Linked DNA regions of Homo sapiens: regions 2, 3 and 4 are each reported to be linked to region 1. The links are microRNA targets in miRTarBase. Many come from high-throughput screens and were not tested one by one. Region 1 holds a microRNA gene; each other region holds the end of a gene's coding sequence.
Evidence for each region. Region 1 holds the annotated microRNA hsa-miR-1343-3p (CUCCUGGGGCCCGCACUCUCGC, at 3,366-3,387, shown strand). A microRNA usually pairs through its seed, bases 2 to 8, with sites in the 3' UTR of a target mRNA and lowers its output. Matches are read on the target gene's strand: a 7mer-m8 pairs with bases 2 to 8, a 7mer-A1 pairs with bases 2 to 7 and ends in A, and an 8mer does both.

Region 2: the mRNA of RRAGD is a reported target of hsa-miR-1343-3p. Seed matches in the 3' UTR shown: 7mer-A1 at 1,026-1,032.
Region 3: the mRNA of UFM1 is a reported target of hsa-miR-1343-3p. Seed matches in the 3' UTR shown: 7mer-A1 at 5,031-5,037.
Region 4: the mRNA of HMGN2 is a reported target of hsa-miR-1343-3p. Seed matches in the 3' UTR shown: 7mer-m8 at 5,600-5,606.

The regions. Positions count from the first base shown.
Region 1 is chr11:34,938,523-34,945,648 of GRCh38, forward strand. It overlaps MIR1343 (microRNA 1343), which reads left to right and starts at 3,315; the gene lies at 3,315-3,398. The region is part of intron 2 of PDHX (pyruvate dehydrogenase complex component X); the gene reads left to right.
Region 2 is chr6:89,361,685-89,368,798 of GRCh38, reverse strand. RRAGD (Ras related GTP binding D) reads left to right here. Exons shown (of 7, transcript NM_021244.5): 7 at 592-4,183. The coding sequence ends at 743. Among named protein-coding and RNA genes, the nearest start is that of UBE2J1, 13 kb to the right of the region's middle. RefSeq lists an enhancer at 533-762.
Region 3 is chr13:38,359,629-38,366,754 of GRCh38, reverse strand. UFM1 (ubiquitin fold modifier 1) reads right to left here. Exons shown (of 6, transcript NM_016617.4): 6 at 3,136-6,044. The coding sequence ends at 5,977. Among named protein-coding and RNA genes, the nearest start is that of UFM1, 13 kb to the right of the region's middle. RefSeq lists an enhancer at 2,123-2,631.
Region 4 is chr1:26,473,885-26,481,010 of GRCh38, reverse strand. HMGN2 (high mobility group nucleosomal binding domain 2) reads right to left here. Exons shown (of 6, transcript NM_005517.4): 4 at 6,876-6,926; 5 at 6,344-6,439; 6 at 4,369-5,898. The coding sequence ends at 5,863. Among named protein-coding and RNA genes, the nearest start is that of HMGN2, 5.0 kb to the right of the region's middle. RefSeq lists a silencer at 1,867-2,067.

The DNA.
Region 1 (7,126 bases):
AATTACAGAGCTTTGGCTATTTCCATATTCGATATGACAGGGTGTTGGTGTCATTAAATAATGATTCAGACACAGAACAGTCTTTTAGGGATTATTTTAAAAAGATTAACTTTCTTCACACTTTGAGAATTTATAGGTAAGCAGATGAGGGGATTCTTGGGCCACATTTATCTTTCAGACTTCCAGCTCACTGGCAATCTAATAAGTTATTCACACCCGTTAGAATATGAGCAGTAAGATAAAGAGCCAGCAGACATATGGTCTCATTATTCTGTTCTTTTTTCCTTTTGATTACAATATGCTATTTTCATGTAGGACAGGCCAGGATGTATTTTAAGTCCCTGGAGCATGTTTCCCTGAAGGTTGCTCTTAAAATTCTGTGTTCTGCCAACTGAAGGGAAATTTGTTTTTGCCAAAACACAGTAAATAATTGAGAGCAATCTTAATCCTTGGTTCTTAGTGGTTCACTGGCTTCTTTTTGAAGCTCATCACCTTTGTGATTTGTGATCTTTTGAGTATAATTGGCTGCTTTTCATTAACACTTATTTACTGTATACATGGGTGTCAATATATGTTTAAGTATGCCTGGTTCTTGGTACATTTATGATAACTTGCTCCATTCATTTTATATTAAAAACAAATTTATATTCTGACAGCATACTTTTCATATATTTTTTCTCTTATTAACTGTTTTTTGTTTGTTTGATTTTTGAGATCTTTTTAAATGTATGGTCACCATAAAACAATGAGTTTAAACCTTTATGCATTAAGAAAATTGATATTTTTCATGAAAAATGATAGTGTTGCATCGAATTATGAATCTAGTTTACTTCTAAGCGAAGACTAGATAAGTATTTGAGAACATTCAATGGACAGCAGTTCAGTCTTAAAAACCATTAAGTTTTTTCAAAGATCTGAGACTGATTCACAGCTTCTTTTACTAATGGTGTGTGTGTGTGTGTGTGTGTGTGTGTGTGTGTGTGCACTTGCATGCGCGCAGCGTTTTACACCAAGGAGGTAAGGGTGCAAAGAAAAAACTCTGGCCCAGGAATCATGGTTTTTCCTTTGGGGTTCCTCCTCTGCCATGAACTACCTGGGAGTGAGTTGAACTAGCTGAAATCTAAGGTACGGAATATCCTGGATTTATAATTCTATGATAACTCATTTTTATTTTCTTTTTTTAAGTAACTGAAATATGCAGTATTATAGCATATAAATTATTTCCGTCTTTGTTGAACTCATGATTCTAAGAAAATAAGTTTTATAATGACTATTAGAGTACTTCATTTCAGTCTGAGGATTGACTAAAACCTTATATATCATAAAATTAGTACAGAAAATGCTCTGAAAGTGCTAGGTAACACCCACAATTTCAAAATCTTTTGAAAGGTCAATTGAGCTATCATTTGGCATTTTTATTACAAGTTTTTTATTTGGAGGGGGCATGTGCTTCAGATATTTTCAGTTTAAACTGCACCTAGTTTATTTTTTCATCAATTGAACTGTCAAATCTGTTAAAATAACAGAAAGGAAAAAAAATTCTTGTTCTCCTTTTGTAAGAGAATATTTGAGGTTATGAAAAACCTTGTTTTTTTTCCTCAGAATATTTGAGATTTTTCTGCTCTGCCGTGAAGCACTATGGAACAAAACCAGGCTAAGATAATTCCATCAAGCACTTAGCCACACCCACAGTGCCTAGAATGTACGTAGTAAGCATGCTTAACAGTGGTGCTTGTTGCTGCGGTATTCCTTATGTCATGAGACAAGGGATTTTTTTGTATTTCAAATAGTTTTTGTCTAATATACTGTTACTGTATAAAATTCAGAAATAAAACCATTTTGAAGAAAGCCTTATCCTATATCACTAGATGCCACTAGAGAGTTATATGGGTCTCTGGATTCTACTATAGAAGACACTTTGGTTCCGTTATTTCTGGCAATATGTATATGTTTGTGGTGCTAAAATGGAAAATTTTGAAAAGTCCATTTCACAAATAGCTTCCTTTTTTTGGTGTACTATGGTTTTCACAGCTTTATTGAGGTATAATTTACATACCATAACATTTACCTATTTTAAGTATTCAATGATTTTTAATAAATATATGGAGTTGTGCAGCCATCACCACAATCCAGTTTTAGAACACATTTCTGTCACCCCAAAAAAGATCCCTGCTGCCTGATTGCAGTCATTTTTTTCCTCCCATCTCTATCCCTAGACAATCCGGATCTGTTTTTTGTCTCTAAAGTTTTGCCTTTTGTCTATGTTTCATATAAATAGAAGCATGTAATGTTTGGTCTTTTGTGACTAGATTTTTTCAGATTTAGCATGATTAAGGTTCATCCATGTTGTAGCATTTATCAGCTGTTCATTCCTTTTGTTACTAAATTATATTCCATCATTATGCGTTTTTACATTTATTGCTAAATCTTTGTATTATATCAGAATTTTTAAATTAGTGAATGGAATTATAGATTATAGTTTTATTCAATAGAAGTTTCTGTGGTGATGGAAATGTTCTGTGTTAAACTGTCGAATACAGTAGCTACTAGACTTTAAGAAGCCAGAGGGATGTGTGGGTGGTTGACCTTGTCTAACTGGGCCCTTCTCAAACTCTCCTACTCATGCCTTCACCCCATAGGGCAGGACCTCAACTGGCCTAGCAACCAGGTTGCCTCAGGTCTTTGGCCATGCAAATATTATCCTTCTTTGTGTGTGTGTGAAGTGAAAAGGGATGACAAACACTGACTAGGGGTCCCTCCTCTACATTCCCATTCTGCTGTAGGTACTAATTGGATGGGATTGTCATTGCCTGCTTGTTGTACTGTTCTTCAATCAGATTAGGAACTTCTTGAAGCAGTTCTGTCTTATTTTATTACTATTTTTATCATAGTGTCGCACACAGTGTCATTCACATGGGCAGCTAGTAAATACTTGTAGAGTCAACAATTGAATTATTTTTGTTTCTGATTATTGTTATCATTATGGTTCAACATAGCACTAAGAAGAGGAATTTTTCTTTAATGTTCATGTTAATCTGATAACTTGGTCTTACAGATAAAAACTAGCTCTCTTCCACCACCACCACCACACACATCTTTTACGTAAAGACTTTTATTCTTAATTTTTGGCAGAACAAAATTATTTTGTGAAAGCCTCAGGACTTATTCTATTAATAAAATAAACATCACCATTAACTGTGTTTGACCAAGGCTATGCTTAATATCTAGAATTTAAAAAGAGAAAGGGAAGCCTCCGTATACTTCAGTCCTCAGCTCTGGCAGCTGCCCATCGGACAAAGGAACAGGACGATGATGCTGGCGTCGGTGCTGGGGAGCGGCCCCCGGGTGGGCCTCTGCTCTGGCCCCTCCTGGGGCCCGCACTCTCGCTCTGGGCCCGCTCCTCTTCCGCCACTGCCATGGACCACGAGAAGATGGTGCAGGAACACTCCAGGGCTGCCATCTCTTTCTTCAATCAGTCAGCTATGAACCTGACAGCTGAGAAGCCATCTGTCATCTCACGCTGTCCAGGACCCTCTATCCTAGCTGCTGAGTCTTTTCCACTCTTCTCCACTTTAAACTCTTTGTGGACAGAACCTTCTCTTTTTGTTGTTTTCATACCCAGTGCTTAGTACAGTGCCTTATACATTAATGTTTGTTGGATGATCTGGTAGAAATGACAGAATATGGAATAAATGTGTCCTGATTCTGGTAGAAATGACAGAATATGGAAAAAAACCGTATCTTGATTCAGGTAGACATGACAGAATATGGAATAAATGTGTCTTGATTCAAAATGGTTGTATAGCTAACATTTTATTTTTACCTAGAGATGTTGTAAAGTGTTACATAAAGATGTATGTGAAGCATTAACACTTCCAGCCCCATGACTTAAAAAATATATATCTATACATTTAAAATTTTCCTGAGAGTCAGAGAGATTAAGTAACTTGGTCAAGATCACTAGTAACTGTCAGAGCTTGGAATCAAACTCATATTTGAATTAGGAGAGGTTCCTTGTAACTACTCTGCCAAGGAGTCTTTCTAAGTTATAGCACTAAATTTTTGATCACAGCTGAAACTCAGTAGATTTGAAATATTCATGGCTCATTATTTGCTCTCAGAGTTTTCTTTTGGCATTTACATGATGTTTGATTATTGAAAGATAGAACTTTGGTTTTGTGATGAGTTAGGGGTAATGCTTCCATACGTAATATTACTATGTTTTTAAAACTTCCCTGTGATTTATTGGTAAAGTGTTCTGTGTTTCTTTTCCCTACCTCCCTCTCTTTTGTCCTCTCCTTTTTTCCTTCTCTCTCCTCCTGCTTTTCTCTTCTACCCTCTCCCTTGGCATTCTCATCTAGCTAACATATATGTCTGTGTTATGTGAATAGATATAGTTTTTTAAAAAAGAAAAAAAGGCTATCTTTTTAAATATCAGAAGCATGCTACAAATCAAATGTTAGAAGCAAAAGAAATGTAAAAGATAATTTGATGTATACCTTATGAGGAAATAAGGATTCGTGAAGTTATCATGTTTTTTTCTAAAGCATTTTAATCTAAAATTCATTGGGTATGGTGCATTGGCCATGAAACCTGAGGAATGGGGATGGGAATATAAAACATTTAAGTGTCCTGTCCGTATTGTGAAGAAGCTCATAGTCTAGTAAATAGAGGAAATCACAATTTAAAAAAGTAATTAGCAGTAATATAACATTTTATATGCAATTTGTGATTTTTAAATAAATTAGACCTACTATAGGAATCTGGAATATGAACAAAATTATGTAGGTCAAGTTACTCAGAGAAAGTTATATAGCTGAAGTCGAATCTGTAGTTCTTAAAGTGTGGTTGGAATTTGAATACTGATGAACACAAATGATGATATAGCATCATTTTGTTTTTCTGTGGCTAGAGTCTGTTTTCTAGGCATCTAAGAGGTATTTAATTGCTGGGTTTACTAGTTCTATAGTTTTTCCCGTGATTATAGCAGAAATCTTTGAGGGTGTGCTTTTTTTCCCTTTTGAAGTGCAATCTGTTTTAACCACTAAAACATTTAAAGAAGTATGTAAGATGATATAATCTGACACTGTAGCTTTCTCTATGACATACAAAGGTCATTTTTGGTCTCTTCCTGCATATCTTACCAGCCTAATCTCTCGTCACTTCTCTCGCATACTATTTGCCAGTTTCTCTGAAGTTTCCTGTTCTCTCTGCCTCCAGGGCTATAAGTGTATTACCTTCTACCTGGATCACTGCCTGTTTACAGATTGTCTCCTCCTCACCTCTTCAGGCTCAGAATAGGTGGTCATTGTATTCTAGGAAGCCTTTTCTCACCTTACAAAAACTGAATTAGATGCCCCTCCTGAACATTCCCAAAGCATCCTGACCTCACCTTATCCTGCTGTATTTTCCAGTTTACTTGTCAATGGATATTAAGCAAGCTTCTTGAGGTCAGGAATCTTAAATCTTTGCTGTTATTACTGTCCACTGCTGTATCCTCAGTGCCTACATATGTATATATATTTTATATGTAATATATAAATATATAATACAAATATGTGTGTGTGTGTGTATATATATATAAAATATATTTATATAATTATTATTATTTTTTAGACAGAGTTTTTGCTCTTGTTGCCCAGGCTGGAGTGAAATGGCATGATCTTGACTCACTGCAACCCCCTTCTCCCAGGTTCAAGTGATTCTTCTGCCTCAACCTCCCGAGTAGCTGGGACCACAGGTGCCTGCCACCTCTCCTGGCTAATTTTTGTATTTTTAGTAGGGACGGGGTTTCACAATGTTGGCCAGGCTGGTCTTGAACCCCTGGCCTCAGGTGATCCACCCACCTCGGCCTCCCAAAGTGATGGGATTACAGGTGTGAGCCTACACGCCTGGCCACCCCAATACATTTTTAATAAATGTTTGTTGACTAGGGACATCTCTTTGGAGTTAGACAAAGGACCTTTTAGGTGGTAAATAAATATCATCTAACATATCAATTTATTTTTAAAAATAACTTATATTAGTGTCTCTGAACTATTTAACCTGAAGATATAACTATCAATTTGATCATCTTGGTACACAATGAAGTACTTTCTGTACTGTGAACGTTCAGAGCATATTTGTTAATTTAGTGTTTTAGATTTTCTTTCATATTCTCTTATGATGCTTGCCTGTTAATATTGCTATTCCAGCTATTTTTGGTGTGTGAGGAGGTGTATTTATATGTTACATATTTTTTATCCCCTTGTTTTTTATTCTGTTTTTGTGTTAGGGCTATCTCTTGTAAGCTACATTTACCTAGATTTTATTTTCATATCCATTTTGATAATCTCTACTTTTAATGGGTGATTTTAATCCATTTATATTTATTGTGATTACGGATACATGGGGACTTATTTCTACCATTTTTTGTGCATTTTTGTTTTTATCCTTTGCCTTTTCTTTCCATGTGCCTGCCCTCAGTTAGATAATCAACTTCTTATTTTTCCTCTGTTTTTCTAATGCTGTAGATTATATTTCTGTTTTTAAATTTTAAATTAAATTTTGCCAATAAAGTTTAGTATTATTCAGTATTTTTCTCCTATTATAAGTTGATGCAAAAGTAATTGGGGTTTTTGAAAGTAAGGTGGTAAAAATAAAATTACTTTTGCACCAGCTGAATATATCAAAGTTGTTAGCATGCCTTACCATCTAAACATTTCCTTACCTATCTTATTATTTTTTAGAGTTTGAGTTTTACACTTTTTAAACCCTCAAACATTACTTTAAAAATACTAGTAGTTAACATTTTAGTAATTTTCACAATAACTTGTTTCTTATAGCCCATGGGTTCCATCTGCTTCCACTTTTCTTCTTGATGAACTGCATCTTGTAAGAGCTTTTTAAAGAGATCTTTAATAGGTGGTAAAATTTCCTAGCCTTTATATATCTAAAGAATACTTCTCTTTCATTCTCAAATGATGGTTTGGCAGCATACAAAATTCTAGACAGTTATTTTTCCTCAGTTTTTTGAAGATATTACTTCATTGTTTTCTGACCTCTGTTGCAGCTGCTGAGAAGTGTACTCTCAGTCTTTCCATTGAGGTAATCTGTTTTTTTTCCCCTTTGATAGATTTTTAAAAGA
Region 2 (7,114 bases), not on the chromosome of region 1:
ACTTAAAATACTTAATACTGAAAAGCTGAGTGTCATTGGTTGTTGAATTTCTGCTGGAGTTGGCGAGATGACTGTTAACACTCTAAAATTAGGGGCTTCGCTTTCCCTCGGGCTTATGAGAATGGTTTAAATATAATAGATACTCAGTAAATATTTATTGATTGATACACAGCTTTGGGATCCCAAGTCAGGATCTGCCTCTACTCAGTCTAATAATGCCCTTTGGGGAGAAACATTTTTCATTACAGATTTCTCTTAATTGTAAGAAATCTTTAATTCTGAAAGGTTAAAAAAAAAGTTCAGTTCAGTCGTTCTTTAAATCTTTTGGGTCATAGGAACCTTTGAAAATATGGTCTATGCTCTGCAACCTTGCATCAGGAAAAATCTTCCTTCACAAGACTTTGCCTATAATTCCTAAAGATTTATAGCAATTTCTGAAGGCCAGCTGCAGACATCCCAGGGAAATCTCTGGTCCTTACGCTAAGACCATCCTCTACTGCCCCCTACTGGCTTGTCCTGGCCATGGGTCCCATGAAAAGATGGAGATTATTTCTACGTGACATTTATAAATATTTTTGTTCTCTTCTCCAGGGCTAATTGACTATAATTTTCATTGCTTCCGGAAGGCCATTCATGAAGTTTTTGAGGTGAGAATGAAAGTAGTAAAATCTCGAAAGGTTCAGAATCGGCTGCAGAAGAAAAAGAGAGCCACCCCTAATGGGACCCCTAGAGTGCTGCTGTAGGTGAGGTTTCAGGAATGTCTTTTGAAATCAGACCTTATCCATGAGGCTGCTGCGCCATGTTGCACTAAAGGAAGAGGAAGAAGGAGATTGGGACACATACCATTGATTTGTTGTTAAAAAAAAAAAATTCCTGCAACCCTCTTGATCTTCTCTTTTATAAATAAAGTAAGCACTTTGAAGCAAAAACTTGTATATTAACAGTGATGTGAAATCCATTGTCATTTCATTACACAAATGTAAACTTTTATGGTCTGTAGTCAAAAAAATCCCGTGTGAGAACTGCCAGGAATTGTACATATTTTGCACTTTTTCATGTTTCTCATTGAACTGAACTTTGATAAAACGACTTTTCTAAGCTTTTTTTCTGTACTTGGTGTCAAGGACATGCATACTGTAGTCCATATCTATATGGCAATCAGAAATTAATCAAAAAGTGATGCATTGGTAATGACTTTTTGTAAATTTGGAAATCTTTGCTACCAATTGTTGAGAAAAATCATTTTTCAGTGGAGCTGGAACAGATTGGAGCTACAAGCTCCAGGAGCAATAAGAACTGTCCCCTATTTATAATGGGTGTAAACAGTTTTGTAGAATAATGCTAGCACCAGACTTACCTAAAAATTTCTATAGCAGTGGCTGTGCTTCCCTGCTCAACGGTTTTTATGAAGCTGTTTACCTCAACACACATCTCTATAATCACTTTATACAGAGAGGTTATTTCTTTTTGTTGCATTAGTATTCTTTTGAAACTTTGGGACCAGATTTCCAAAATGGTGCCGAACACTGGAGAGAAGTAAGAATGTCACTGAATTGTAGGGTTTCTGGAGGCTTTTCTGTACCTACCACCCAGGGCTAAAGTAACATCAGAGGCCTAAAGTTGTTCCAAAAGTATGTGATTGGCAACTGCAGACTAAAAAACATAGATACAATTCTGGACTTTTGGCCCTGTGCGATGGTCTGGTGTGCTGCATTTAAAATGCTTATTCAGGACCAGTTCTTTATTGCTCCATGACCATAGTGAATAGAACAAATCGCAGAACCCCACCATGGAGCTCAATCCTGTTAGTCACTTTTGTCACCTCCACATCTCCTTCTCACTGGTGATAACATGCCTCATGTACTCCACTTGTTCCCACCTTATGATTAAGCCAAGCTCAGCCTGCCACCAGCATGCTCTGCAAGGCTGAAGAGTCATCCTGAAGACCCCTAAAGGTCAGTGGGAAAAGGATGGCTGGAGAGACATTACAATTAGCTGTGTAATTGTTTCTGTGAAATTATTTCACTTATGTTTACTTTAGACTAACAGGAAATTAAGAGTCCTAAATCTACCCCTATGCCAAATCATTCCAAGTAGATAATTTTACGTGCATCTCAAGGGTTAGCACCCTAAGGCATGCTTGTGGGGCATTAGAAAATGAGATTTTTTTTTTTTTAAAGCAGAGCCTCCTAAGAACATCAAAGTTGGTCCTAGCAAAATATATAAAGTCCCTAAAGCAACTTATACTTGAAACTTTTTTTTTTTTTTTTTTTAGAGGGGGGCCTCATTCTGTTGCTTGTGCTGGAATACATTGGTACAATCATAGCTCACTGTTACCTCTTGGGCTCAAGGGATCCTTCCACCTCAGCCTCCCTAGTAGCTAGAACTACAGGTGTGCACAACCACGCCCGGCTAATTCTTAAATTTTGTTTTTGTAGAGACAGGATCTCACTGTGTTGCCCAAGATGGTCTCAAACTCCTGGCCCCAAGCAATCCTCCTGCCTTGGCCTCCTCAAATGCTGAGATTACAGGCCTGAGCTACTGTGCCCAGCCTAAACTTTCCCACTTCTCTCTGTGGCTTCTTTCCAACCTCTCTCCTTCCTCTCCCCAAGTCCTGTTTCTTTGAAGCTGGTAACTGAATTTAAGATGATATCTGGTTGGTGTTTAAGGTTTGAGCCTCCCAAGGTTCTGTGCATTTTGAAAGGAGATTTCTAAAAATAATTAAGGTGCCCTAACTCCTTTCCTCATGATTCCTACTCCGAAACCTGGATGGTTAGGAGCCCAGGGCTCCCTGATTTCCAGAGCTATATCCTGTTGGACCTTTGCCAACAGACCTGACACTTAGGGGTTATTGTTATAAATCTAATTCTCTAATATTTTTTACATGTTGTTTCACTTTGAATAAGCAAATGAAGAATCAGTTTTCTAATATGACTTTATCCTCAAGCTAGAGACACTAGCCTATTTGGTAAATCACACATTACTTAGGTATATTTATTACTATAACCAGGTTGGAGCTTCCATGTTTAAGCTGGGTATATGATGGGTTTTTGTTAAAATGTGCCTTAAAAAGCCTATTACTTCAAGAGCAAATGATTCTTTGGGGGAAAGGCAAAAATAATTCTATGACATAGGGCCCAAGTTCATGGTAGTAAGTGTACTCTTTGATTAATCACACGCTAATATAGATTACTGCCTCTAACTTTGTAAGTGTGGCAATGACTTCTTAATTAAAGAAAGATGCAGGAGTTATGTCTAAGCGTTCAGTTTTTCAAATCTGTGTTATTGGAAATGTCTTCAAGTCATTTTGCATTGTATTTTTGATATGAGAGGCAGCTTATTGCGATGTGTATGGCCATGTTTCATTCTCAAATTTAATTCTATAAATACAAATCCTAAATACATGGCTACAGCAACTGCACTGGAACATTTTTGCTTGGTTTTAGGGATTGAGAACTTGCCTTGCAGGTTTCCTTCCTCAAAAGGAGCAGGGCAGTCCTTTCCCTGTTGAGTCAATTAGAATTTTTACATAGAGGTGAGACTGTGAATTATTTTGGTTATTTTCAGTGATGTAGATTAGTGTGAATGACCAGGGTGGAATGTTTTTGAAGGAATATAAAGCAAAAACTGGTTGACATTCACAAACTGTTCTTTTGTGAACATATTTTGGACCCTTAAATATGACTAAAATCACAGCAATATTGTTACATACGGGTTATATGCCAACTCTGTTTGAAATATACTCTGGAAAAACAGCTGAATTGTCTTGGTTATTAAAGTATGGTATGTATTCAACTTGTACAGACTGGATGTAATTTGTAATCAGGTATAGTCCATGTTTTACTTTAAGCAGTACATCACTTAATAACCATTGTTAAGCCATTGCTTTCAAGAATGTTAACTGCCAATTTAAAAGCATGTGTCCTAGGTTCATGCTTTGGTAAAGCTCTCATTTCAAGTGTATTCATAGCTAAGCTTTCTGGGAGCAGAATTGTCTCTTTGGTGAAAAGGAAGTACAGCCTTTCCTGTTTCTGAGGTTGCTTACCATACATGTATGTCACTGTTTCATTGGCCCTGTTACATCCATTTGGTAAAATTTATTTGTCCTGATTAACCAGCTCTCATTTTATGGAAATGATGATAAATCTCACTACTTAAATTTAATTTATGCTTTTATTTTTAAACTCTCTTACATCTCCACATTTTTGATGGGTACATGCCAGTTAGGGCTGTAGAACTGTTACTTCAGTAAACTTCAGATATTAACTCTTGCTGCTGTGGCCCTAATCCCCTAGTCATATGGAAATCCTTTTCCTAACAGTTTACCTTATCATTCTTAACTTTGCTTAGTAAGATTCCATCCTACAATGACCTTTTTCAGATCCCCTAGGAGTTCTCAGAGAGGGGCTAGCATTAGATGTTATATCTCAAATATGAAATCCTGTTCCTGGTTGGAAAACCTGATCTGAAATAATTATTTCCAAGATTTTCCATCAGTAGTGATGTTGAGCTTAAGAGAAAGAAAATTTTGTCTTCAACAGAAGTATTTAGTAATAACAGATACTGATTGAGTACACACAATATGCCGCAGGCACTGCTCTGAAGTACTTTTGCATAACTAAAATTCATAAATCCAAGAGGTAAGTACTGTTACCATTTCTATTTTTCAGATGAGGCAACCAAGGTCAAAAAGATGAAATAATAACTTGCTCAAGATCATATAGCTAGTAAGCCCACTTTCCCAACTACAACTATAAGCAGCTTCACCAAATGTTTTAAAAAAAATACCTTCCTTTCACAAATATGAAGAGGGGCACTTAGAGGATTTGTCTGGTGGACTAAGACTATGGGGTGTGCCATGCCATTTGAGGATGCAAAAGGAGGGCGGTATTCAGGAGAGTGTGTCAGAGCCCACCAGATACATTGGAGTTTATCCACCTAAACTACTAATTACTACATGGGCATGAATGCTGGCATATTGAGAAGTACCTATTCTTACATGAGCTCCCCTGGCATATTTATAGAACCAATAGGAGCAGTCTTCTAAATGTACTTCACCCAGAGAAGAAAGTCAAAGATCATGCATTTTTATTCCTAACCCATTAAATAACTCTAATGCTGAAGATGGTATTAAGTGTCTAAATATCTAAAGAAAATATAAATACCTTTTATAGCCATTTGGTTTTCTAATAGGCAATAGTATATTTCAAGCTCAGAAATCTAAGAATAAGCCTTTGGTCTTAACTGTATTCAACTTTTTACCTTGAGATTTCAATATATGTAAAAAAAATAAAATACTGATCTGGAATAAAATCCAAAAAGGTATATTTCCATCCTAATTCTTTTTTGACCTTCAGATCTATATCTTAAATTGCAACTAGCATGCTTTTGCTAGAATCTTCTATAGGTGAAAAGCCTCAAATCTAATATGTCTAAAATTGGCTTCCTTCTTGCTAAATCACCTATGATGGTGTGACTTTCCTCCCTGTGCTTCTGCCAGACACTTGGGCCTCATTCTTGACTCTTCCCTCCCCTCCTGTTCACCTGCAGTCAGTCACTCGGTTCTTTCAGCTCAGCCTTACAAAGGTCTATTGAATCTGTTCTCTCCATCTCCTCTGCCATTATCTTGGTTTAGACCACCATCTCCTTTTTACTTGGATTTCAGTATTTTTTTTTTTTTTTTGAGAGACAGTCTCATTATGTTGCCCATGCTGGAGTGCAGTGGCATGATCCCAGCATACCATAACCTCAAACTCCTAGGCCCAAGTGATTCTCCTGCTTCAGCCTCCCAAGTAGCTAGGACTACAGGTGTGCACCACCACACCTGGCTAATTTTTGTTTGTTTTTTTGTAGAGATGGAATGTCGCTATGTTGCCCAGGCTGGTCTCAAACTCCTGGGCTCAAGTGATCCTCCCATCTTGGGCTCCCAAAGTGCTTGGATTATAGACATGAGCAACTGCATCGGACCTTTCAGTAGCTATTTAACCAGTGTCTCTCTACCCCATTCATCCATCCATCCATCCATCCATCCATCCATCCATCCATCCATCCATCCATCCATCCTTCATACAGACCCCGAGTGGCCTCTCTCAACCACCACAATTCTGACCTTCCTTGCTTCCTGACCTTCTTAAGCTTCCTTGCTTAACACCCTCCAGGTCTGAAGCTCTCCATGACTCCTAGATATCAGCCCAAACTCCTTAGCAGAGTTCACAAGACCCTGCTCCCTGGCCTTGCTGCATCTCCGGACTTGGTTTATTCTCCCTCAATGTGTTGAGGACAAGCATGACCAAAAGAGTGTGGGGTAAATAAAAGGAGCCATGAGTTTTGATTCTTTTGTCAATAATGATTGCTAAATCTCCTATGATGGTGTGACTTTCTGAGGGAAATTAACAATGTTCTTTTATCCAACAGATATTTATAGGGTTCCAATTATATTCCAGACTCTGTGCTAGAGAAATGGCTAAAAGGCAGATACTGGAGATGAAAGGATTTTAATATCTAAAAATAATGAAAAATAAACTAATTTTTGATAGGTCCTTATAGATGTCAGTTTTTAGAACTGCAGTTGTGTAGGACTTTACCACTGTGCGCAGCAGAGACCATGGATAATAACTAGCATCCAAGAAATTGAGTTGTTCAACCAATAGATCAATAGCTATATTTACTATTAATTTAATGTAAGACTAAATAGAAGAAGTAGGCTGTAAATTCGAAATGTTTATTGACATGTAGTGCTTTTCCTTGTAATTAAGAGGTGAATTATCTTAAAAGTAGGAAGTTTTAAATGTTATTTTAATATTCATACTTTTCCAGCTTAATACATGTATGACATCAATATCACTTCCAGAATTGGATTTAATAAAAAGTTTATTTGGCCGGGCGCGGTGGCTCACATCTGTAATCCCAGCACTTTGGGAGGCTGAGGTGGGCGGACCATGAGGTCAGGAGTTCAAGACCATCCTGGCCAACATAGTGAAACCCTGTCTCTACTAAAAATACACAAAATTAGCCCAGTGTGGTGGTGTGCGCCTGTAATCCCAGCTACTCAGGAGGGTGAGGCGGGAGAATCGTGTGAGCCCAGGAGGCAGAGGTTGCAGTGAGCCAATATCGC
Region 3 (7,126 bases), not on the chromosome of region 1:
GATACACATTGTGGACTTTATAATCATACAGACCTAGGAGTCAATCTCACCGTAACCTTAAACATATTAACTGAAGTCTCAGCTTCCTGAACAGTAAAGTGAAGAAATTAACACTGGCATTTGTGAAGGGATTAAGGATTAAATGAGTCAATGTCTGTAAAGTGCCTCACACTGTGCCCAGCATATAAAAAGGGATTCGTTACACATCTTCATGTCCATGATTACTAGACCAGGTAATTTTGGTGTTTTTGAAATGTATAAATTTGGGAAAGTCCAAGAAATGGGAATGAATGGATGTTAATCATGTTTCGTCTCCAGTATTTAACAATATGCAGCATATAGCTAATAATGTTTGTTTAAAAATAAGAGAATGTTTTACAATTAAAAAAAGTAGTTAATTTAAGTAAATTTCTGCTACAAGAAACAGTGGGCAACATGGGTATACCGGTTAACCAAATAATCTGGTGAAAAGCAGTTACTTTATGTATGAGACACAGTTCTAATTTTCAAAATATTCTTTTATGTAGTTTTTCAATTATAAAGTACTTTTTGTTTATGGGCAAAGCGATTTGGAAACCTAGTTTCAGTCATGGTCTTAGACTTTTATAAAATTTATATTTTAGAGACAAGTAATTCTGTATTTAGTAATTGCTAGAATGGAGGAATATACAAAATGTAAAATTGCTTAGACAGTTAATACCTACTGCTTTGGAGGAGGGAGGAAAGGCTCAATGGCTTTTGATCTTAAAGAATAAATCCTAGGTTTTCCAGGCAGACAAATGGGGTAAGTAAAGAAATGAAAGCATAAGAACATGGCACATCACAGATAACTAAACATTATTTGTGGTTCAGTGTAGCTGCGGTGTAAATTAGGGAAGGAAACTGTAAGGAAGAGAGTAGTAGTAGCAGATGACTCTAACACAGACCAGTTCATGAAGGGCCTCGTATGTCACAGACAGTGTAGATTTTTTATTCAGTAGGATTTTGATTAATGAAATGGCATAAAAAAACTCATTACAGCAAGTGTGAAAGAGGAAATGAAGAGACTAGAGGCTCTTAGTATAAACGAGAAGATGAGGGCTTTTGTTACAGTGGGGATGGCTGAGATATTCTGTTAACAACATCAAGAGAATTTTGTGATTGTCTTGATACATCAAGAAAGGAAAATCAGGAGTAACAGATTTGACGGTAAGAGAACCTTAGTCAATTTGAAGGATATGGTTAATAGGTTGGATAGATTGAACTTTTCAAGAGTATTTATTTCAATTAATGGTTTAATGGCCTAGTTTGAGTAATGATTTACCCATCACCAGCACTAACCAATAGAGGGCACTTCCAGAATTTCTGTATTAAAGAAGTTTATGGGCAGCAATCTAGTAGAAAAAGTGGGCTATTAGGAGACTAACCTTGCAGCTTCACTTGCAAAATACACTAAAATTAAAAAACACAATGTCTGATAGGCTAATGAATATGGCGGCATAGTCCCTACTCCCACTACTGGTTGGTTTATAATTAATATCCTAGAATTTTATCATATTTATACCATATATACACCACGTATTAAAAAAGTAAGGCCATTCATTATCATTACACACAGTCAGTACTCTGACATGGAATTTAAGCCTTACATATTTTCTTACTTTTAATCTGCGATTCAATACGCATCTAGTATATCACAGAAAATATATACTAAAAATTTCTCCGTATAATGTGCAGAGTTTGGGTCAAATCATGGGTTTAAATTTCAAATCTCAACTTAAGCCTCTTTCTTTTTCTATAAAAGGGGAAAATAACCTGGAATTGTTATAAAGAATGGGTAAATAAAAATGAAATTATCCGTCAAAATATTTGACACACAGTAGATGTTCAACAGATTTCTTTAGGATGAATTACATATATAAATCATTATTTTTTGTGTGGTTTTATAAATGGCCTCAGGAACACTATCAGTTAACTTAGAATCACTCCATTAAAGTATAACAATGCTTCCAATTCAGGAATACTTCAAGGTCCTCGCGTAAAAAACATCTTTTTACGCGAAGATATTAAGTTTTAATATCTTAATATTGGAGTAGAGGAATTAAATAGGATTGCATTTTCTTCCCACTAACGTTTCTTTTGAACAGCTAGTTCTAAGAAAAACTTATCTAAAGAATGTTTGACTTGAAAAACTTTTTTTTTAAAATTTTTTTAGTATTTATTGATCATTCTTGGGTGTTTCTCGGGAGAGGGGGATTTGGCAGGGTCATAGGACAATAGTGGAGGGAAGGTCAGCAGATAAACATGTGAACAAAGGTCTCTGGTTTTCCTAGGCAGAGGGCTCTGCCGCCTTTCGCAGTGTTTGTGTCCCTGGGTACTTGAGATTAGGGAGTGGTGATGACTCTTAACGAGTATGCTGCTTCCAAGCATCTGTTTAACAAAGCACATCTTGCACCGCCCTTAATCCATTTAACCCTTAGTGGACACAGCACATGTTTCAGAGAGCAGGGGGTTGGGGGTAAGGTTATAGATTAACAGCATCCCAAGGCAGAAGAATTTTTCTTAGTACAGAACAAAATGGAGTCTCCTATGTCTACTTCTTTCTACACATAGTAACAATCTGATCTCTCTTTCTTTTCCCCACATTTCCCCCTTTTCTATTCGACAATACCGCCATCGTCATCATGGCCCGTTCTCAATGAGCTGTTGGGTACACCTCCCAGACGGGGTGGCGGCCGGGCAGAGGGGCTCCTCACTTCCCAGACTGGGCGGCCGGGCAGAGGCGCCCCCCACCTCCCAGACGGGGCAGCGGCCGGGCGGGGGCTGCCCCCCACCTCCCAGACGGGGCGGCTGGCCGGGCGGGGGCTGCCCCCCACCTCCCGGAGAAAAACTTCAAAGGTTGTGCAGTGAGTGAGACTGTTAGCTAGCACCTTCACCTCAGGCTACTTACCAAGCATTGGAAAGTGCACTGTCCAAGATTCCAGAACATATTCTACTTACTTTGACCCCTTAGACCTCATTCTGTTCTTCTACAAAGTGAAAAGGTGGCCTTCTCATTAATTCTCAAACCACCTGCATGGCAGAAATCACCAGAACTCCTGTTTACAGAGGATCTTTATATATTATTACAGATGTAATAAATCAGAATTCAAGGAGTGGTTTCCAAAAATCTGTATTTTTAATTTCCTAGGCGACTCTGTTATCACCCAGGTTTGGAACCTACCAACCTAGCCAGTTACAATAACCCCATTTTCTTCTCAACTTTTTTTTTTTTTTTTTCCGTCTGTAAAATGGACAGGCATTTGCAAGTACTGTTATGTATCACTGAATCACAGGAACAAATTCTGAGAAATGCTTCCTTAGGCAATTTTGTCACTATGTGAACATCAGAATGTACTTGTACAAACCTAGTTGATGTCACCTACTACAAACTTAGGCTATTTGGTATGGCCTATTGCTCCTAGGCTACAAACCTGTAGAGCATGTTACTGTACCTAATACTGTAAACAACTGTAAAATGATGGTAAGTACTTGTGTATCCAAACATAGATAAAGCACAGTAAAAATATAGTAATATGGGACCACGGTCATATATGCGGTCTGTTGTTGGACGAAACATCACTACTATGTCTGTGGCAGATGACTATAAACTAATTTCTCTGACTTATGGTCATTAATCATCTTTGCCCTTTTTTTCTTTACTACATGTATTATATACTGACTCAAAAGGTGTGCTGATTAAGAGCTCTAATAATAAGAACAGACAATATGGTTTACAATATAACAACATGTATTTTCATTAGATATTAATTATAAACCAATAACGCATGTAAACTGAATACAATACTTCAAATCATTCTGCACAAAGAAATTACAGATCACATTTTTTTAATAACAAAATGTCTACTTGTTTAATAAAATGTTTTTAGGAACTTACAATGTTCAAAACCAAAGAATAAAAATATTAAATATATCACTTTATGGCACAGGACAACATAAATTTATTTTTGTAACACAGCAGGCAAATTTTTGTGCTAGAAACAGGATGGAGAAAAATCTAAATTAAAGCAAAAAGTCAGGAAATGGGTGTTCATAAATTCCTGCTTAACTAAGACTCAACATTTATTGTAAGAAACGGGGCCTCTGAACATCAGATTTTGTTTATAAAAATAAAAACTTCCTCCCTGTCTCTGCTAAAAATACAAAAATTAGCTGGGCGTGGTGGTGCATGCCTGTAGTCCCAGCTACTCGTGAGGCTGAGGCAGGAGAAGCCTGGCGACAGAGAGTCTGCCTCAAAAAAAAAAAAACAAAACAAATAAATAAAAATAAAAACTTCCTCAAACATCAGATTTTTTCACCTCAGCAAATACTTTTTCCTTTGATAATTCATAATCCTGCTGTTCATTTGTCACATTTATGAATATCTGGTAATTTCATAAACAACTACCAATGGTACACTTCAAATGCTGATTCTGTTGAATCTTCTTATTTTTTTTCCCCCAATGAACTTAGGGCCTATGATAGAGAAGATACTGAAACATGCTAAGATAATAATTGGTCTTAGAAAGACTTTACAGCAAGTATTTAATGAAAGCCACTACATTTCCAGCTCTAAAAAGAGCCAGACACAATCCCTGCTTCCAGAGTTCACCATTCAGAATACAGGAGGTCAAGCACTGATTCTGAATCATTAATGGGCTTTGATTTCGTCTTTCAAGATTTGCATAGATACTGATTTCTTCCGGAAGGGCAAATAAAATCTTCCCTTACACACATCATTCTTTGGATTCTCATAAGGGGTATTTTGAAGTCTGTATGTTGACAAGGCCAGTAGATACTTTGTTTTCTCTAACTGCCTTCTTCTACTTAAGACTATGTCAAGTATTTTGTTTTCCCTTTCAGTTCTCCCCAACATACACCTTCTGCAGTTTTGTCTATCCAGTCCGCTTTTCTGTAACACTTTGCTACCCCCTTCTGTTCCCCTTCACTGTTTCCTCTGTTGCTTTCCTCCTTAATAGAAGCCTGGTGATCTGGGCTTCCCCATCTTTCCTTTCCTGGCTTCTTATTCACATGGGTGACTGATCTTAGCACTTCCTTAAAAGTTGGGTTTTCAATAAATATAACTCATCAGCACTTCCGATCTGTATTTCCTTGAGCTTTTTTTTGATCTTCAGATCTGTGCAATAATACTCTGTTCCTGAATGCTATTTAGAAATACTATCCTCAAAACACCAGTGGTTTCTTGAAGCTACTTGTTTTAAATGTTGTATCAAAAGAGATTGATAAAGGAATGTATAACTCAGCAAAGGATGCTTCTACTGTAAATTCCCACCATTAAAAGTACTGGATTCTATAGGTCCACCATTAAAAGCTGGTATGGGACACCAATTTATACACATAAGGGTTAGATTAAAATTTTAATTTTTTGGTTGATATTAAACTGAAATTTATATAACTGAGGTCTGAATCTTAAAAAAAGTAAATGATAAAAATTTAATATAGTTAACTGTTCACTGATATGTCTATTCACTTCATCACAACCTATATATTTAATTAAAAATCAAATTATGAGTCTGCAAATCAGATGCTATCAAGCAAATTGCCATCCAGGGTCCATAATTCTTTTTATATTTTTATCTCAGATGAATATATACGATTCAGTAAATTTTAATGTTCCAAATTGTTCTAAAAAAAAAAATTATCAAAAGCTTCCAGTTAACAGTTGGCTAATTCATTTGCCCCCAACGAACTACCTGTTTGTGTTGTGAGGTAGCATCAAAGACTATGATCTTCTGTGACAGTAGTAGCCTTAATTCATACGCATTCCCTCTTCATAGGAAGAGTATGGACAACAAAAAGGGACAGATGAGTCACCTTTCATTAATCATTGACTCCTGGTGTTTTCATAGTATGTTAAATGCCTGATTTCAATTTTACAACAACAAAAAATACCAATATTTATTCTGAAAGGCAATCGTATGTTCCAAGTAGCAGATATTAACAACTTCCAACACGATCTCTAGGAATAATCCGCAGTTCTGAACCATGTTTTAGAAAAACATTTCCTATACAAACAAACAAAACATAAAGTTAGATATCTAAAAATCAAGTTATCTTAATATTCTGACAATTATTAAATATAATAAATGATTTAGTAAACAGTAAAATGGGTACAAAAGCTCAAGCATCATGAGACCCCAATTCCAAGCTTTTTAAGTCTTGTTCCTATTCTCCTATCTTCACAATCCAACATACGCTTAAAATTTAAAATAACACCAGCCATGAAAACTCTGACGAATACTTTCATCAAGTAACTGTGAATAATTTAATCATGAATACTTCCTTCAATACACAATAATATATCTAAGGACAGGAAAAAAAATGTAAATTACTACAAGTGACAAAAATTTAGATACCCTGACATATTTGGGGTCAATTGCCTGATGAGATTTTCTTCATATCAAGGATATGCACATTCAATTTTTAAAGATAATAAAACAAGCAGTATGTTAGAGTTAGCAGTAATTCAAACTACTGTAAAATATTGAAAGTTTCTCGATTAAGAAAAAAAGAAACCTTTGTCTACTAAGTTTAAAGGCATCCATACAATAAAGTGCCTCACGATTTTCAATAAACCTTTTTAATAAAATTATATATTAACAACTACTGAAGTAACAAAAATTTGCAATTTTAAATCACTTCATTTTCTTTATGGCTGAATTTCAACTGCAAGGCCTGTGAAAACAACATAATTTTGTTACAATAAAGAAATACTTTAGAATATAATTTAAAAATAACTACTGCTCTAGAATGAGGTTACATTAAAGCATGCCTAATTTTAAAACTTTAGATTATAAGCCTAAGAGATTACATTTTAAAAATATAAAACTAATTTTAAAAAAGTTTTAGACTTCTTTTTATAAAGTATGAGACTACTTTTACCCTGTCTCCTGGTCAGGACACCAATATATCACCTGTATAAATTTAACAGTTTGAAGATCTGAATGTAGACTCAGCCCCTTGAAATGTAAATGACTATATTTAAAAAAAATAATAGCACTTAATGAATGCTTTCTATAAATAATCCAAGCTATGAAGCACTTTACAGTCACTATCTCACAACTACCTTAAGAGGTAGGTCAAAAAA
Region 4 (7,126 bases), not on the chromosome of region 1:
AGGTGGCTCATGCCTGTAATCCCAGCATTTTGGAAGGCCGAGGCAGGCGGATCACCTGAGGTCAGGAGTTCGAGACCAGCCTGGCCAATATGGTGAATCCCCGTCTCTACTAAAAATAGAAAAAAATTAGCCGGGCACAGTTGTGGTCATCTGTAATCCCGGCTACTCTGGAGGCTGAGACAGGGAGAACTGCTTGAACCCAGGAGGCAGAGGATGCAGTGAGCTGAGATCATGCCACTGCACTCCAGCCTGGGTGACAGAGCAAGACTCACTCTAAAAAAAAAAAAAAAAAGAAAGAAAAGTAAGAGAAAAGAACTCTTACACTTCAACAATAAAAACAACCCACAAAGAATACTTTCCTGAGAAGCATGTTAAACACACACACACACTCCCTAATTATAACTTGGCAAAGGATGTGAATAGACACTTCTTTAAAAAAAGATGCACAGGCTGGGCACAGTGGCTCACACCTGTAATCCCAGCACTTTGGGATACTGAGGTGGGCAGATCACCTGAGGTCAGGAGTTCAAGACCAGCCTGGTGGCCAACATGGTGAAACCCCTCTCTATAAAAATACAAAAATTAGCTGGGCATGATGTTGGGTGCGTGTAATCCCAGCTACTCAGGAGGCTGAGGCAGGAGAATCACTTGAACCCGGGAGGCGGAGGTTGCAGTGAGCTGAGATCGCGCCATTGCACTCCAGCCTGGGCGAGAGAGCAAGACTGTCTCAAAAAAAAAAAAAAAAAAAAAAAAAGCCAGTACGGTGGCTCCCACTCATGCCTGTAATCCTAGCACTTTGGGAGGCCAAGGCAGGCGGATCACAACGACAAGGTCAGGAGTTCCAGACCAGCCTGGCCAATATGGTGAAACCCTGTCTCTACTAAAAATACAAAAATTAGCCAGGTGTGGTGGCGGGCACCTGTAGTCCCAGCTACTCGGGAGGCTGAGGCAGGAGAATCACTTGAATCCAGGAGGCAGAGGTTGCAGTGACCAGAGATTGCACCACTGCACTCCAGCCTGGGAGACAGAGCAAGACTCTGTCTCAAAAAATAAAAAATAATAAATAAATAAATGAGGCCAGGCATGGTGGCTCACACTTGTAACCCCAGCACTTTGGGAGGCCAAGGTGGGCAGATCACCTGAGGTCAGGAATTTGAGGCCAGTCTGGCCAACATGATGAAACCCTGTCTCTACTAAAAATACAAACAATTAGCCGGGTGTGGTGGTGGGCACACGTAATCCCAGCTACTCGGGAGGCTGAGGCAGCAGAATCGCCCAGGAGGGGGAGGCTGCAGTGAGCTGAGATCACGCCACTGCACTCCAGCCTGGGTGACAAAAGCAATACTGTCTTAAAAAGAAAGAAAAGGCCGGGCAAGGTGGCTCACACCTGTAACCCCAGTACTTTGGGAGGCCAAGGCAGGTGATCACCTGAGGTCGGGAGTTCAAGACCAGCCTGACCAACATGGAGAAACCCCGTCTCTACTAAAAATACAAAAAATTAGCCATGCATGGTGGCACATGCCTGTAATCCCAGCTACTTGGGAGGCTGAGGCAGAATAATTGCTTGAACCTGGGAGGAGGAGGTTGCAGTGAGCCGAGATCATGTGACTGCACTCCAGCCTGGGCAACGAGAGCGAAGTTCCGTCTCAAAAAAAGAAAGAAAGAAAGAAAAAAGTACGAGTTACCATATGACCCAGCAATTTCATTCCTAGGTATGTGCCCAAATGAGCTAAAAACATATGCCTACAAAAACTTCTATATGATATTTGTAGCAGCATTATTCACAATAGTCCCAAAGTGGAAATCACCCAAATGTACATCAACTGATGAGTAAATAAAATGTGACTTATCCAATGTGATATATCCATACAATGGAATGTTATTTGGCAGTACAAGTTATCAAATACATATGATACGGATGAACCTTGAAAACATGCTAAGTGAAAGAAACCAGTCGTGAAAAAACACAGATTGATTCCATTTAGATGAAATATCCAGAAAAGGTCTAGAGAGACAGAAAGTAATTAGTGATTGTCTAGGGATGGGGGAGGAAGAAATGGGGAGTTAACTGCTAATGGGCATGGAGCTTTTTGGGGGTGATGAAAATATTCAGAGGCTGGGCAGGGTAGTTCATGCCTATAATCCCAGAACTTTGGGAGGCCAAGGTGGGCAGATCACTTGAGGTCAGGAGTTCAAGACTCTAGCCTGGGCAACATGGCAAAACCCTGTCTCTACCAAAAACACAAAAAATTAGCCAGGCATGGTGTGTGCCTGTAGTCCTAGCTATTTGGGAGGCTGAGGTGGGAGCTTGAGCCTGGGAGGTAGATGCTGCGGTGAGCAATAAGCTGAGATCATACCACTGCAATCCAGCCTGGGTGACACAGTGAGACACCCCCATCTCAAAAAAAAAAAAAATATATATATATATATATATATATATATATATATATATATACACATATATTTATATATATATACACATATATTTATATATATATACACATATATTTATATATATATATATACACACACACACACGTATATATTCCAGAATTAGATAGTGGCAATAGTTGCACAATGTTGTGAATGTACTAAAACCACTGTAGTATATGCTTTAAAATTGTGAATTTTGGCTGGGTGTGGTGGCCAGCACTTTGGTAGGCCAGGGTGGGAGGACTGCTTTGTGCCCAGGAGTTGAATACCAGGCTGGGCAACACAAGACTCCATCTCTTAAAATAATGATATAGTGGTGACTTTTTTTTTCCCCAAGAGCGTTAAGTATATTTATTTTTTAAATTTTATTATTATTATACTTTAAGTTTTAGGGTACATGTGCACAACGTGCAGGTTACATACGTATACATGTGCCATGTTGGTGTGCTGCACCCATTAACTCGTCATTTAGCATTACGTATATCTCCTAATGCTATCCCTCCCCCCAAAGTGGTGACTTTTAATGGTATATGATTATTTCTCAATTTAAAGAAGGGGAGGGGTAATTCTCAGCAGTGTTAACTGCTGCAATGAATCAGGCCAGGCCTGAAGAGACCGTGCAGCAGGCTGTCCACACAACAGCCATTTTCCTCTATCATCATCCCTCCTCTATTGAATTCCAACAATTCTGACTGGTCTAGGCAGATTCTGTGGTTTCATTCCTCTTGCTATGATTGGTTTAGGAGTGGAGAGGCAATCCAGATCTGCCCAGTGAAACACAGGCTGCTGGGGTGCTTGTAGGAAATATTTCATTCTTCTTAAATGCAGGGAAAAAAGGAGCAGTCCTCCAGCCTCTTGCCATTGGTATGGCAAATTACGATGTCTGGAGCAACTGCCTTGAAGGTGAGGTGGCTGGAGAACATGTTGAGGGCGGCAGAGCAGAAAGACAGGAAGCCCACCTGGGTCCTCACAACTGCCCGACCTCGGGACTTGTATCAGATGAATCCTCTAGTTTGTGCCATTTATGTTACTTTTTTTTTTTTTTTACTTAGAGCCCAAGCATCTGGTGACTTTTCCCGAGATCTTAAGAATGGGCCTGGAGACAGGGCTGGCACTGAGCATGCTACCATGGCTGTCTTAGTGAATGGTCCTTACCACGTTTTGATGTCTGGTTTGGTTTTAGGCCCAGCTACTTTCATGGTCCAGAGCCAGTCAAATCAGTATTTTCCAGGAAGGAAAAAAAGAAAAAAACTCGAAAAAGTTCAAGCTTACCCTACTCATCCTAATTATATGGCAACAAGAAGAGGGCCAGAAAATAAGTAAAAACAGACTATCAAGTTTAACCTCAGCCAGTCGCTTCACATCTGAGCCTCACTCTCGACTACAAAATGGGGCTACACCTGTATCTCATAGGTCTGACTCAAAGATTAAAGAGCATGAGGCAGAGCTGTTAGCATAGCCCAGGGCTTAGCAGACTTGCCACTAACAAAGAACCTCAGCTGTAACTTTCTCAAATTCTGCAACCTCTGCTCAAATACCAGCCCACTACCCCTGACCATTCTAAGATGTCTCTTAAGTTTCCTCTGGAAGAGGACACCGCTTTTAGAATAAAAATTACCCGTCTACAACCTAGAATGAATGACTTCAGCAATAATGAAAGTAAATGGCTGGTAACTGGCTAAATGGACAAATGGTATTTTATCCTGAATAAAAGTCTGTCAGAGATGACTTTTGTCTAGTTGAGGGTCTGAATCCTGACTCTGCTGCTCATTAAATGTACACATAACCTTCAACAAGTTTCATCTGTGCCTGATTCCTCATCCATGAGTGTGATACATATATTACACAAACATCTCAACACTTGAGAGATAATACACAAAAAACCTCAAGAACTTAACAGCGATACTTTTTTGACTAAGGGAATGGACAAAGCAATTAGTCTCCAATTTACTTTATTCCTGTCCAACAATACAGCCAGGTCTGTGAAAGCAAATTCAAGGTGCAAACATGAATTTGTTACCAGTTCCATATTCTAACAAATAACTTCTTGCCATTTCACTTAGAGAAACGTGGGGTTCTCTGCATCTCCAAACTAAAGGAATCAGGAAAGACCCCATTGTCTTTGTTTGCAGGTCTACTTAGGAGCAAAGTGTCATCTACCTTACAAATGGACAACTGTGTACACATTCACAGAGACACTCTCTGACATGAGTCTATTAATTTGCTAATTTTATAGAAGTTGCAAATGCAGATGGAAGTAGAGAGGCTCCTGTCAGCTACCCAGCCAAAACCGCAGATCTACCAAAAATCTGCATTTAATACACTTCATGTATTCGGAGTCATGCAAAAAACAAACACTGCAGGGAATGCTGCATAACCAAGTACAGAAATCACTCCATACTCCCAGCCTTTCACCATCAGCTAAGTCTACTCCTGGAATCCTTCCTAACTGCACCTAGCACTGTGTGTTTTGGAAGCTGACTATAAATCAGTGAAAGATCATCATTAGACTGTACATGGAGTACCTCAAAGCAGAACGTACCCTGTTCCAAGAGACTTGGATAAACCAGGTTACCCCACTTGTGGGAAAAGATCAGAGGCAGCATTCCAAGCCAAACTGTATCCAGCTTTATTAAAGATACTTTCCATAAACAATCATGGTATTTCAGGCAGGACATGGGCAGACAATCGTTAACAGTATACAACAACTTTCAAACTCCCTTCTTCAATGGACTACCAAAAATCAGAAAGCCACTATAAAACCCAATGAAGTCTTCATCTGATGCTCTGAACAGGGAAAGTTTAGAGTGAGGGTTGACATTTCACATTTAGCATGTTGTTTAACAACTTTTCACAAGCCGACCCTGACTTTCAGGAAGTGAAATGAAAATGGCAGAATTTATCTGAAGATCCACAATCTAGAAATGGAACCACTGCTCTTTTGACAGGTGCCATCTCAGTGGCATCACTGGAAAGTCCAGATTGCCTGACACACTGGTAACCAATGACTAGGGGTCAGGTCTCAACAGATGTCTGGGCTTAAGGGAGTTAAGTCTATGCTGAACGATGGAAAGGGAGAAGAGGACATAAAAACAAATTTGTTTTTCTATACCACAAGGCTTTTGTGCCAAGGTGGCCATGTGTGTCAAAGTCAGGGAATCCCTCCTCCTGGGAGCCAAGAGGAAGTCTCTCAAAACTAGAAGGGAAAGGTGTTTTCTCCACATCAATCCAGCTTTGGAGACATTCTATTAGTGACATATGCCCCTTCCCCCAAAAACAACAATGAAGTGTTCTGTGTGCTAACAACATAGCTTTTAAAAAAAAAAAAAAAGTAAAACAAAATTCTGCATTTTTATAAAACTTGATAAAAAATAGTATTTCAAACTGTACAGTCACCAGAAGTACACAGTTATCAAAAATGCACACACTTCACTTGGCATCTCCAGCACCTTCAGCTTTCTGTGCCTAAAAGAAAACAGACAAATTAATGCAATGCGTAGATTTCAAAACTATCTGTGTTCACATTCCACCTACAGCATCACTTTGCTCCCAGGCCAAAGTTCAGGTTTCAGGTACTGAGACTCAGTATTTCTTCTGAGAATGACTTACTAGGTAACTTTGCTAAGTCACCTCTCCTCTGGGCCTCACTGTAAAATTGAGGTAGGAAGAACACCAGAATAAGAGACCTGAGGTTACTCCTAGCTTGAAAACTTCATGTAGTATAAAACACAATGCCCTTCAGCTGACAGTAGAGATTTCAAGAATCCAGGATTTAAGTTAACAGGAAAGCCACAAGCACACTGGACCAAATGGTACATTTGGAGTGATACAAGAAAAGGGCAATTAAATTTTTGATATCAGCAACTAACTGAATGAACAAATCTAACAAAGGGTGAAACAGCAGTTATACCTGGTCTGTTTTGGCATCTCCATTTTCTGCAGGGTTATTCCCCTCCTTGCCAGCATCAGCTTTTCCCTTTTTCCCTTTGGGTACCTTCTCTCCCTTCTGAAAAAGGGGAAAAAATAGAACTGTTTCTCCCCATTTCGTATTACCAAGGTATGGTCTGCAAAGTTCTGCACAAGGTAGGATTGTTTACTCAAGATAAAACACAAACCCTCACCCATTTGACAAGAACAACTGATCAAAACTAGGCTAAATTATCTGTAATTTGCTATAATCTTTAGTACTTAGAATTTCCTAAGTAACAGAAGAATAAATTAGTTTAAACCCTGGGGTATTTAATATTTAAATGCAGATTTTCCTATAAACTAACAACAGAATTCTTGATCAGGAAACCAACGTTATGAATGACACGGACGAGGTAAGCTATCCACACAGTTTATAACCTCCATTAATGGAGGCACCATTATGCTAATTAAGTTAAGGCACTAAGGACAGTCCTCATTCTGTGAAAATGATCAGTTCCAATGTTAGCACTTACCTTTGCAGGGGCCTTTTTAGGCTTGGGCTCTGGCTTTGGAGGAGCAGGTTTCTTTTTTTGGCAGGAAGAGAGGAAAAAGTGAACATCAGTACAATGGACTGAAGAAAACCACCCACAACCAACCAAAAGTACCAAGGGTAGAGAAGTTTCTCCTCCTCCTCAAAAGTTTTTGTGGTTGGCTTTCTTCTAGAATGTTGGATTTCCAGAAGCCCACTCAAATGTCCCACTTTGGCTACAGGCATCAGAATTTC